Regions from separate parts of the Homo sapiens genome. Here region 1 is linked to region 2. The links come from fine-mapping of genetic effects on gene expression. Tissue or cell type: nasal epithelium. Region 2 holds a variant in brackets; the other region holds the start of a gene. All regions are shown on one strand. Distances are from middle to middle. Region 1 holds the start of PCMTD2 (protein-L-isoaspartate (D-aspartate) O-methyltransferase domain containing 2). Region 2 overlaps MYT1 (myelin transcription factor 1).

Evidence for each region.
Region 1: PCMTD2 starts here. The variant in region 2 is fine-mapped to the expression of PCMTD2 in nasal epithelium (TOPMed, PIP 0.96).

Annotation. Positions count from the first base shown.
Region 1 is chr20:64,252,697-64,258,065 of GRCh38, reverse strand. PCMTD2 (protein-L-isoaspartate (D-aspartate) O-methyltransferase domain containing 2) reads right to left here and starts at 2,318. Exons shown (of 6, transcript NM_018257.3): 1 at 2,196-2,318.
Region 2 is chr20:64,225,086-64,230,454 of GRCh38, reverse strand. It overlaps MYT1 (myelin transcription factor 1), which reads right to left. Exons shown (of 23, transcript NM_004535.3): 17 at 2,978-3,040; 18 at 2,484-2,567. Among named protein-coding and RNA genes, the nearest start is that of PCMTD2, 28 kb to the left of the region's middle. RefSeq lists an enhancer at 3,616-4,115. The variant T/C (reference allele first, on the strand shown) is at 2,079.

The DNA.
Region 1 (5,369 bases), 28 kb before region 2:
TAACCTCAAACTGTATGTTGGATAGGTTTCATTTTCCACTAAGTAACTATCACTTATTTTGAACTCTGCCTTAATTTGAAAGTTCAGACAGCTTTTTAGTAAAAACAAGCACCTTTTTCCAGGTACCACCTGCCAGTCATGGCCTCATTTACACTTCACAACATTAAGAAGCAAATTGGAGCTGGCCGGTTAATTTGTTCATGATCACATAGCCAGTTTGTGAGGAGGGGGCTGCATTCAAACCCAGGACTGTATGGCAAAAGGCCTGTGTTTTTAATACCACACCAGTGCAGCTTTTAAAAATACTCAAGACAGCAACGTTCTTTACCACACAACACACCGGTAACCTTTTGACGATGGGGTAACCCTATCTATACCTATTGCCACTGGTAGGATCCATGTGAATAGCTGTGGGGTCTGATATTTATTACCATCTTTGTCTGGTAATCTAACACTCCCTCGCACTGAAAACCATCGATATGATCAGTCATGATGTCACCAAAAACACCGACAACAAAGCTCTTCGCCAAACCAAATCCTATCATTTTCACCCAGATTCTACAATCTGGTCAAATCCAATTTTTCAAAGTAAAAGTGTAGAATCATTTTTAGAACGCTGCACTCGATGATACTGTGCACATTGTCTGCTGTAATTAATCCTTAATATAATTCACTACTCTGTGGTAACTAGCAACAGTCCATAACAACCTGGCTGCTCCTTACAATGCGAACTGCCAGGGCACATGAAGAACACTTGCTGAGTGGCGACAGGCATGGGAAGGTCTCAGAACTGACACCTGAGTTGTGATTGTGGCTGTGTCAACACAAGCATGAAGCTATGGTAGTGGGGTTTTGGGAGGCGACATACGGAAGATCACATTCCAACTTGGATGTCACTTCTTTAGGGTAATATGGACAAAGTAATTCATTGTGGAAGATGAGTGGGGAAAAGGACCCAAAGCCACATCTCCTTTGGGCAGAATGATCAAACAAACACACAAACAGATTTCTCACCTTGAAAACCAGAACTCTTACAAGCAATGCAAAGGGACTTTTTTCAAATACAGATGGTCTCCGACTTCGGATGGTTCGACTTCAGGTTTAACGATGTGTTTACTGGGATGCGACCCCACCGTAAGCCGGGGAGCACCTATACTTGAAAGGCTGTCACATGTACACTATTAATGGGCCTAACAAAAGCCAGACCAGTGGTACATGTTGGAGACAATGCCTACTAAATACACAGAGAAGCTTTCTAACAAATGAAGTTGCAATGAATGAAAGGAGCTCTTGATAAGCCCAGCCAAGTTCCACTGGAGGTACGAGCTGGGGTGGCGCAGGGAGCAAGGCCCTGGATCGGTCACCTCTGAGGTCTCCTCTCATCACCTGAGTGTAGGGCTCTATTTCCCCCAAGCGTGGCCACAACAATTTCTGAGTTGCTTATAGGCACCTCAACTTCACTCATTCTTGAATGACAGTCTATCAAACGCCCAGATAGGAGCTGTTTAGCCATTCCCTTGAGAAGAAAAATGAAAACTATTCTAGTCACACGAGTAAAGAGGGGGTGGATAAAGAGGGCGTGGATATTTAGGTGACTTATTTGAGGTGCAACGCTGGAGCAAACATTCATTTAGGAGACACGTCCCTCTCACAAAAACAAAACAAAGGCCCGAAGCTCAGGCAAGTTCTCCTTCCTCCAACTAACAAAGATCTCTTTCCATGCGTGAATTGAAGTCCCAGTGCTCTGCTCCAATTCTTACTATCTCCAAGGCACGGGGCGGGGGGGCGCAATTATTTTTTTAAAAAATCCTGTCATCTTCTGAAAGGGTCCAAGGCAGACTTTGTTCTAAACCTTAGCTCTTGGCTTGCCTTGGAACTGCAAACGTTTCCCACTTGGGAAGTCAAAGACAAGCTGCAGGTCTGGACTAACCAGACCCAAGAGTGTGAGTGAGCAACGGGCACCGGGAGAGACCGACGGGAAACCGCGAGCGCTCGGAGAGAGAAACGCGGGACGCCCTGGAGGCCGCTGGGGGGAGGTGAGGGTGCCCGAGGTGGGGAGGAGCGACGCCCCCAGAGGAGAGCTCCGGGCGCAGGGGTGCCGGGGGTGGGGAAGGAGGAGGGAAGGGGCCGAGGGGACACACCACCCGCTCGCCGCAGGCCGGACCGAGGGGCGGCGGCGGCGGCGGCGGCTCTACCTCCAGGCTCGGCCGGCCGACGGGTTCGGACCGCCTGGGCTGCCACCTGCAGCTCCTCGGGCGCGTCCCTCGTGTGTCCGCGGCCGAGCAGCGCCGCTCCAACCTCGGCCGCCGTAAACATCCGCCGCCGCCGCCGCCGCCGCCGCCTCTGCGCCTGCGCACAACGGCCTGACTGCGCATGCGCCGCGGGCCTGGCACTTAAAGGGGTGATGGCGGCGCAGGGCGGGCCCCACTCCCCTGGGCTGCCTGCGTCCGCCCGCCCCGCTGAGAGCTCGCTGAGCCCTAGGCCGGGTCCGAGTCTCGCGGGCGCGCCGTCCGCGCAGTGCTCAGCCAGGACGGACCCCGCACGGGCTGCCTCAGAAGCCCTCCCTAAGGGTCACCTGAGACGCCTTTGCTGACCCACGGCTGGGGGCGTTCCGCATCTCCAGGGTGCCCTGCGGCTGCTGACTCGGGGCCGGCGCTGCCCTCGGGCGGCCTCCCAGCACCAAGCACAGCCGCCCTGGGACCCCCGCCCTGCCACGCGGACGGCCACCCGGCCCTGGGGCCCTCCTACCCAGCCGGCTTTGTGAAATCAGCTGTGAAAGGAAGATATCCTGGGCCCCCAAGATCACTAAGGAAAACTCCAGCAGGAAACTGCTTAGGGCAGGCCTGCTTCCCATTCCATTCAAAGTCACTCCTCTGCTCACTTAGATAGATACATATCTGATTTGCCTCCTTTGAAAAGGCAAATGAGAAACTCAAAAGAATTTAACCGTTGGTGTCTCACCTATCTGTGGCCTGGACGCTCCCTCCCCGCTTGGAGTCTTCCTGCCTTTGCTTCAAGTTGTCCCGTCTTTCCAGACCGAACCGATGTGCTTCTTACATGTATCGATGGATGTATCCTGTCTCCCTAAATGTATAAAACCAAGCTGTGCCCCGACCACCTTGGGCACATGTCAGGACTTCCTGAGGCTGTGTCACGGGCGCGTCCTCACCCTTGGCAAAATAAACTTTGTAAATTAACTGAGACCTGTCTCCCATTTTCTGGGTTCACACAGCCCATTGCCCAAACTTCGCGTGGGGCTTTGCAGATAGGCTGTAGCTGCAGAACCCTTTCTTCAAGCACAGCCATGCAAGCCGCCTCATATGTGCAAGTGCCAGCGTCGCTGGGGCGGACGAGTGGGCCTGGGTCTCCGGTTCCCGCCTCCCTCCTAACTCGGCATTCCTCCCCAGACCCTGGAGCTCCACTTAGGAGCAGAGTTTGAAAACCAAAGGCCGGTGCCTTCACCACGTTATGTGGTCCCAGGGAGACCTCACTTCTCTTGTTGATCCATGGTCCTGGATCCACGGACCTGAGGTGGCCCACCACCTCATGACCTTCATGGGGCTCTCAGTGTCCTTCCACCTGAGAGCTTGTGGTTATTTGTGACTGTTTCAAATTACAGAAGCCCTGGAGTCATCCTTGACTCTCTTCCTACTGCCAGGGGACACGTCCTCCATACATCCCTCCTTGCCCTGTCCCAGCTCCCCTCACCTCTCCCCACCCCTCCCACCATTCCCCTGGGCTCTGGCGAGTGGTCCTCCTAAAACAGGTGATCACATCACTGCTGTCTTCAGACACTCCCTTTGTTCCTGGACCCAACTGAGGGTCGGGCTACTACTTCTCCTGGCCCAATAACAAGATGCAAATGAGCTGGAGAGTAAGAGAGGTTTTATTTCTGTAACCGGTTACAAGGAGAAGGCCTGGAAATTATCACCATACCAACTCAAAATTACAAAGTTTTCCAAAGCTCGTATACCTTCTAAGCTGTATGTCTACATGTAAGTGTGCATTCATCTACAGACATAAGTGATTAACTTCTTTTAATCTATGACTAAGGTTGAGTCCTGAAGACCCTCTTCTGGAGCCTCAGTAAGTTTACTTAATCTAAATGGGTCTAGGTGCTGGGGTGATTACCCTTATCTTGTCTCCTGCTAAATCATAATGATATGGGGAATTCCTTTAGACCCCCATAAACTTGTTTGTGGAGGCCTGGGGAGTTTCTTCAGATCCCTAATACAACTTGTTTAATCCTAAAAAGGGTCCTGTTAAGAGTTCCTTCGTTATCTTGTCATGCTTCAAGGCCCAGGAAGAGCCTAGGCAAAACTCTTGGTGGGCTCTTTGTTACATTCCAACCTTTGTATAAGGGCATTGGCTCAATCAGCTTTTAATGTTTAACCTGGCTACTCAGTCCGTGCTGGGACAGCTGTAATGGAGGCCTGCGTTAGTGAGACCCGGCCTGCCACAACTTCAGACTCTTGCTTGGTTTTCCAAGGTGTCTCCACCATTCCCCTCCACATCAGCTTCCACTACCATCAGCATTCATAACCCTTCACAGGGTATATACTGAGCACTCTACATGGGTTATTTCCATGAAATAGGTACTAGTATGACCTCCAAGAAGAAAAGTGGACCGTGACATCAGGAGCTGGCCTGGCACTCAGATCGAGGCCATGGGGTCTCCTGTTGGACATAAATAATTTTGTAGAGGAGCACCATCATGATCCAAGGCCACGTCATAATTTTGTCTAAGCACAAACAAAAACAGGGTAACTGTGCCACCCACAAAATCTAAGACATATCATCTCCAAGTTAGTAACAATGACCCCCGCTCCTCTACCAGCTACAGCTGAGCCTCCCTCTGCCCTGGCCTCCTCACAGATAACATCTACTGAGATGCCCAGAGAACCACCCTTTCCCCCCATCCACTCCCCCAATTCCTGACAGCATCTAATCCATGAAAAAAATCACCCAACTCAAGCCCATAACCTTTAGTAACTTTTCCCGACACCTCTTACTGAGATGCCTTGCAGTTCTCCATGATCTGCATCCCTCTCGCTGCAATGAGTGATAATCCCAACTCATTCAATTACAGGCAGGTTCCTGGCAGCCTTTGGCTTGACGACACTGATACCTCCATTTTACAGATGAGGGAACTGAAACTGCAAGAGGTTCGCTGGCTTCTTGTACTTACCAGCTAGTAGTAAGCACAGGAAGGTGGATGGGAATCCAACTGCTGCTGTCACCCTCCTCCAGGCTTCTCCCACACCCAGCCACGGGGAGCTTTCTGAGTATGTCTTCAGTGTCCCCTCGCCTATCCCCTTGCATCTCTCCACTCATCTGTGTTGTATCTGCAGGAGGAGCCTCGGACGGAG
Region 2 (5,369 bases):
TGCAACCTCCGCCTCCCGGCTTCAAGCGATTCTCCTGCCTCAGCCTCCCGAGTAGCTGGGATTACAGGCGCCCGCCACCACGCCCGGCTGATTTTTGTATTTTTAGTAGAGATGAGGTTTCACCATGTTGGCCGGGCTGGTCTCGAACTCCTGACCTCAGGTGATCCACCCGCCTCAGCCTCCTAAAGTGCTGGGATTACAGGCATGAGCCACAGTGCCCGGCCCAAATCTGAGTTATTTTCACTCCCTTTCTTGCAAAACACTACTCCCCTTCATCAAGGGAAACTGTTTTTGTTCCCTTGAATCGCATACATGGAGAGGATTTCAGATTTCAGGTATGTTCTCTTTCTCACAAAACCTGGTGTGGAGACTTTCAAGCTGTCAGGGACATCATGTTGAGAGGTGCTGGGGCGGTGGGGGCAGGCACTGAGCTGGTGAGGCCTCTGTGCTTCTTGGGTGAGCTAGTGTTTCCTATCACGTGTTGGGGGGCAGAAGCCGTGTGTGCCAGTGACATGAGAAACATGGCCAGGACCAGAAGTCCCCTCCAGGGACAGTGGGCAGGGCAAGGGGAGCATTCACCTCTTGACTCCCATGCTGGAACCTCCGCAAGACTTTTATGACCAGTTATAAAGCTGTGGCAAAGGGATTTACCACCAAGCGCCTGATGTGACTTAATTTTAAATAGCGCAGGCAGGAGATATCATAAAAAGGACTCCTGTTCCACCAGGCTCCCCAAATCACAGCTCATGCATGCTGACGAAATCCCATCCCTCAGCATGACCTGACACATCCATTCCAGTTTCTGCTTTGATATGCATCTGTTTAAATATGCTAGGCAATTACAAGTGCAGTTAAAGTTTATGGCTGGGAAGGAACCCTGTAAAACGGAGGGTTCAGTAGTCAGGTTCCCTCTGCCATGGAGCCTCTAGGACCTTCCTCTATCCTGCAAATGCTGAAGTGTTTCTGAAAGTCACAGTCTCCACTCGGCTGCAGAACTCTTGTTTTTTTTTAAAGCTCAGTTGACAGCACATTAGAAAGGAAAACCATTTTTCCTGGTTAATTTGAAAAATGCTGATCTTGATTTTAATCATTTGCAAATGCAGCACGATTCACTTATAATATCCCTGCCAGCAGGATCCTTGCCAAATCCATAAAGGTGTTGCACTTATATGATCATAGGCAAATTCCTGGATTCTCAGGGGCAAAATGCTTTTTATCCACCTCAGCATTTAGTGTGCGACCTTCATAGTACTAACAACCAAAATTTTGCATTGTTAATTTAGCATTCATTACAGTTTTATTGTAAAAATTAAATAAATAAACAAGCCACAGCCTATTACACCAAACAGCTGGTGGGCCCATCCCCGTCTGAAGGATGTGATGTTGGTCAATTAGGCTCCTCCAGTGTGGCCGGGTGTTTGGGCACAGCTGGAGCAAACTACCAGGAGGAGCAACCCAATCTCAGGCCAAGTTGCCCCTCCCCGGGCGTGAGGTCTGGCTGCTCTTGGCCCAGCAGGTAACACAACGAGGGCAACCTGCTTCCTGCGGGCATAGTAGGGCCCCGTCCCGACCGAGCCGGCCCCTAACCCTGGGCAACAAGGTGTCCAGAGCCATCATTTCCACTCTGCTCACCTGCTGGGGAACCCACTGCCCATTTTGCCAGATGTCAGCTCTGAAAGTACCTCGGTCCTGGGCAAAATGGCCAGTGGGTCACCTGGTCTGAGTCTGTAGCAAAGCATTCCCCCCACCTAAAAGTGGGCAGTGCAGGGGACCCGTTCCCTATTGGGAGAATAAGCTTGTAAGGACACAAACCCCCACCAAGTAGGATAACACACAGAGTCAGGGTTCACCTATAAGCCCCACAAAGACACACGAGCCCCCACCCTGCCCCAGTGAGAAGAGCAATAGAGGAGAATCTTTTCTCCTCAAGGACTTGGGTCACTTAAGGCCCAAGATGTCCTCTTTCCTTCACCCAACAGTGTCTGGCTCCCAGTTTAGATCCTCCTGGCTCTCTCAATCTACCAGCTCTCTGCACAGGTGTGTGGGTGGATGGACACATGGGATTTGGAGCTTCAACA[T/C]TGTTCTAACCACCTTCTCCTCCTTGACTCCTGCATCTCACCTTTCCTGCCAGACAAATTCTGCAGGTTGCAAGGCCCTGGGGCCCACTCCCAGGTGGCCCTAAGACATAGGTAGAAGGGTGCTCTGCCTCTCCCAGCCCCGTCAAATACTCCAGACCTGAAAAGCCCAGAAAATCTGGCACCCATGCCCTCCACGCGACATCCAGGGCTCCTATCTTCACAGGTATCAACGTGTAGCGTATGAGAGCTTCCATAAAAATGAAAGAAACGAAAGTTGGCGTTGGTCAGTTAGGTGACCCGTTGTATTAATGAAAAGGGAATCTAGTAGGAGTTTTTTTACATTATAAAACACACGAAAATCTCAATTCCGCAATGCAATGAAAGAGCCAGCATGGCCCAACGTACTTCATCAGCTCGGGGTCCTCCTTGTCGTCCTTGGTGGGTGCCACCTTGACTCCACTTTTCTTTGCACGAGGGCAGCCGGACAAGCTGATTTCGAAAGAGGAAAAAAGGCCACCTTAGTGCTGGAACCGCAGCTTCTCACACCCGTTCATCTCACCCTCTCCCCTCAAGCTCTGTGACCCCAGGGTGGGGTGGGAGGGAGTGAGGGCAACCGATGGGTCAGTTGTAAGAAGCAGAATCCACAGACACAGCCTTCACACGAGGCAGCAGGGTCGGGAAGGAGAAGCATTACCACGAGCCCCTAGCCCTGACCCCTTGTCTTTTTATCTTACTGCAGAGGACAACTTAATCAGGTTCTGGAAATGGCAACAATTCAGATTAAAGAGATGGGAATGGACTCTAGCTGTCAGCAACATTAGTGTCTTCTAATCTTCATATAAGGAAGAGACTCCCTGCCCACCCCTGGGGCCCAGGACCTGAGGGTGTGGCAGGCTCACCTCCGGTGTGAAGCGTAGTTCCCTGTGATGTGGCCAGAGCCGTCACAGCCGGGCGTGGGGCACCTGCAGAGGGAAGCAGAACTGGAACGGGAGCCCGTGAAGGCGTTTAGCCCCGGCCCAGAGCCCTGGGACCCCCAGAGGAAAGCCTTCTGGGCTCAGCCCTTGAGTGCGCCCACCCACATTCCCTTGTCCGCAGAGGAGCATCGCCGATGTTCACCCCGGCTGCCGACTGCCAGCAACAGGGGTCTGATGCGATCATCTCAGGGGTTCAGTGCTTTGCTCCCCCGTCTCCCCGAGGGAGACCAGGAAGTCTGAGAGGAGAGCAGCCAACTGCTGCTCCAGCATCGGTTTACACCCAGACACCAAACCTGGGCACTGGGACAGGCCTACAGGGTCCACTGCAGCCAAGGACACGAAGGGCTCCCAGCTTGGACTTCTGTAGGGTCCGGTCTGGACTAAAGGCATTCAGAGCATATCTGAGCCATAACTTGAAGCACAGCCTAAGACCAGTTCATCTTCTTGGATGGGCTGGGAGCTTGCCCTCACAAAGCGTGGCCACCATGGGCTGGTAAATGAACAGAGGCCTTTTTGCACACCTGCTGCAGAGCAGATGGCGCTGGCCATGCCAGGCCTGGCTGTTGTATAGCATGACTGCAGAGTTCACACAGCCAGTGGCTTACAGCAGAGAGTAAGGAGGAGAAACACAAAAGTCCAACTTTACACACCCAAAACTATTTGACGAATGTATCACATAAGGTGGTACAAAATTCCACTTTAATATTACAAGCACGGATGTTATTTTCTTCCGAATGTCCACTGAGGAAAAAATATGTGAGTTCCTGCTGATGTTAGAGAGTGGGAGGAGGTGACCTGATTCTGCGGGTAGATCCATCCCCCGTCAGGCCTGCTCTCTGTGCCTCACCCCTCCTGACCCCTGACCCTGCAGGAGCCAGGCAAGAGTTCAGTGCTTGTGTCCAGATCACCTGCTGCTCAAAGGCACTTTGCAGTGGTGCTCAGACCCCAGGGAGGACGTCTCACTTTCCATGCTGCTGGCCCTTCCTCACCGGAGTCTTCCACCAGCACATGTGACATCCGGCCACTGGGACAGGACATCTCCTCGCTTGGAGGAAGATGAAGCCGGGCACAGCCTGGCACCCAAAGGGCTGTGGCGGCACAGCAGGGCTGGCCCCACCTCTTGCAACCTTCTCTTCGGCCCCTAGGAGTTTTTTTGGGGTGCCCTCCTGGGGAGCCTCACATTCCTTCATCCTTGCCCTGTGGGCCACACATTGGATACCTTGCTGGCCAGCCAAGAGAACTGAAGATGGCCTGCCTCTCCTTCCTGGGTTGGCAGCTGTTCAAGTGGCCACTTGGGGCTCCAGCTCCTTGTCTCAGTGGCAGCAAAGCATCAGGTAGAGCTCAGGTTCAGTGCGGTGGGCAAGTGGCCACTCAGGTGGCCAGAGTGACAGACCCACAGCAGCTCTAGGCCTCAACGGGGATAAGCACAGCATTGGACTGTGAGTGGCATCAACAGCAGAGGAGATACTTCCCGATGGCATCTGTGAGTGAGTCTCAGGTGGGGGTATAACTCCCAAGGGGCCGGCAGTACCTAACACACAGGGGGGGCCATCCTGCAGTCCTCACTAAGGCCCGATTCAATGGCTTTTCTCAAGAGTTGTGTCCCAGAGAGGAAAGTACTCACATAGTCAGAGGAGCAGGTGTCCCCTCTGCATGCCCCTCATGGCTCTGTGGACCCCCAGGGTCAGCTGCAGGAATCTGGAGCCACATCCACCCCTCCCACCACCTGCTTCTGAGTGCCCCATCTGGGCAGAAGGGAACACCGTGTCTGAGGGGCACCCTCTACCTTGGCAATACACACCAGGTCTCACCTCTCTAAGCCCCATCCCCGTGCTGTGGACAGGCATTCTTCACCCTGCACAAAGCCTGTCATGCCCTGGCAGGTGTGTGTGGTTGCAGCTCAACTCCCAACACAAGATGAGCTGAGTGGCCCGAGGCGGCCATGTCCTCACAGCCCTTGACCACATCAGACACATGGGAGGGAAGAGTGAACGCCCTTGGGATTCACTTAAAACACAGAACACACATCATCTGACTGTCGCTGCAGCCAGGTGCGGACAGGGAAGTCATGAAAGGAACCTCGTTTGTCCCAAGGCCACCGTCACCCATGGCTGCCACGAGGCTGATCAGGAGGGGCCAGTGCCCGATGCCGCCTCACACAGGAGGTGGCAGAGAGCAAGGAGGTTGGTACACCAGGACACGTGGCGGGGGGAGACCACCATCGTCCCAAGCTCATGCAGTGGTCGGAGGGAGGAAAGGAAGTGGCCTCCCATGGAAAGGCCCCTGGGGGAGAGTGGAGTTTCTGAAGGAGCCTGGA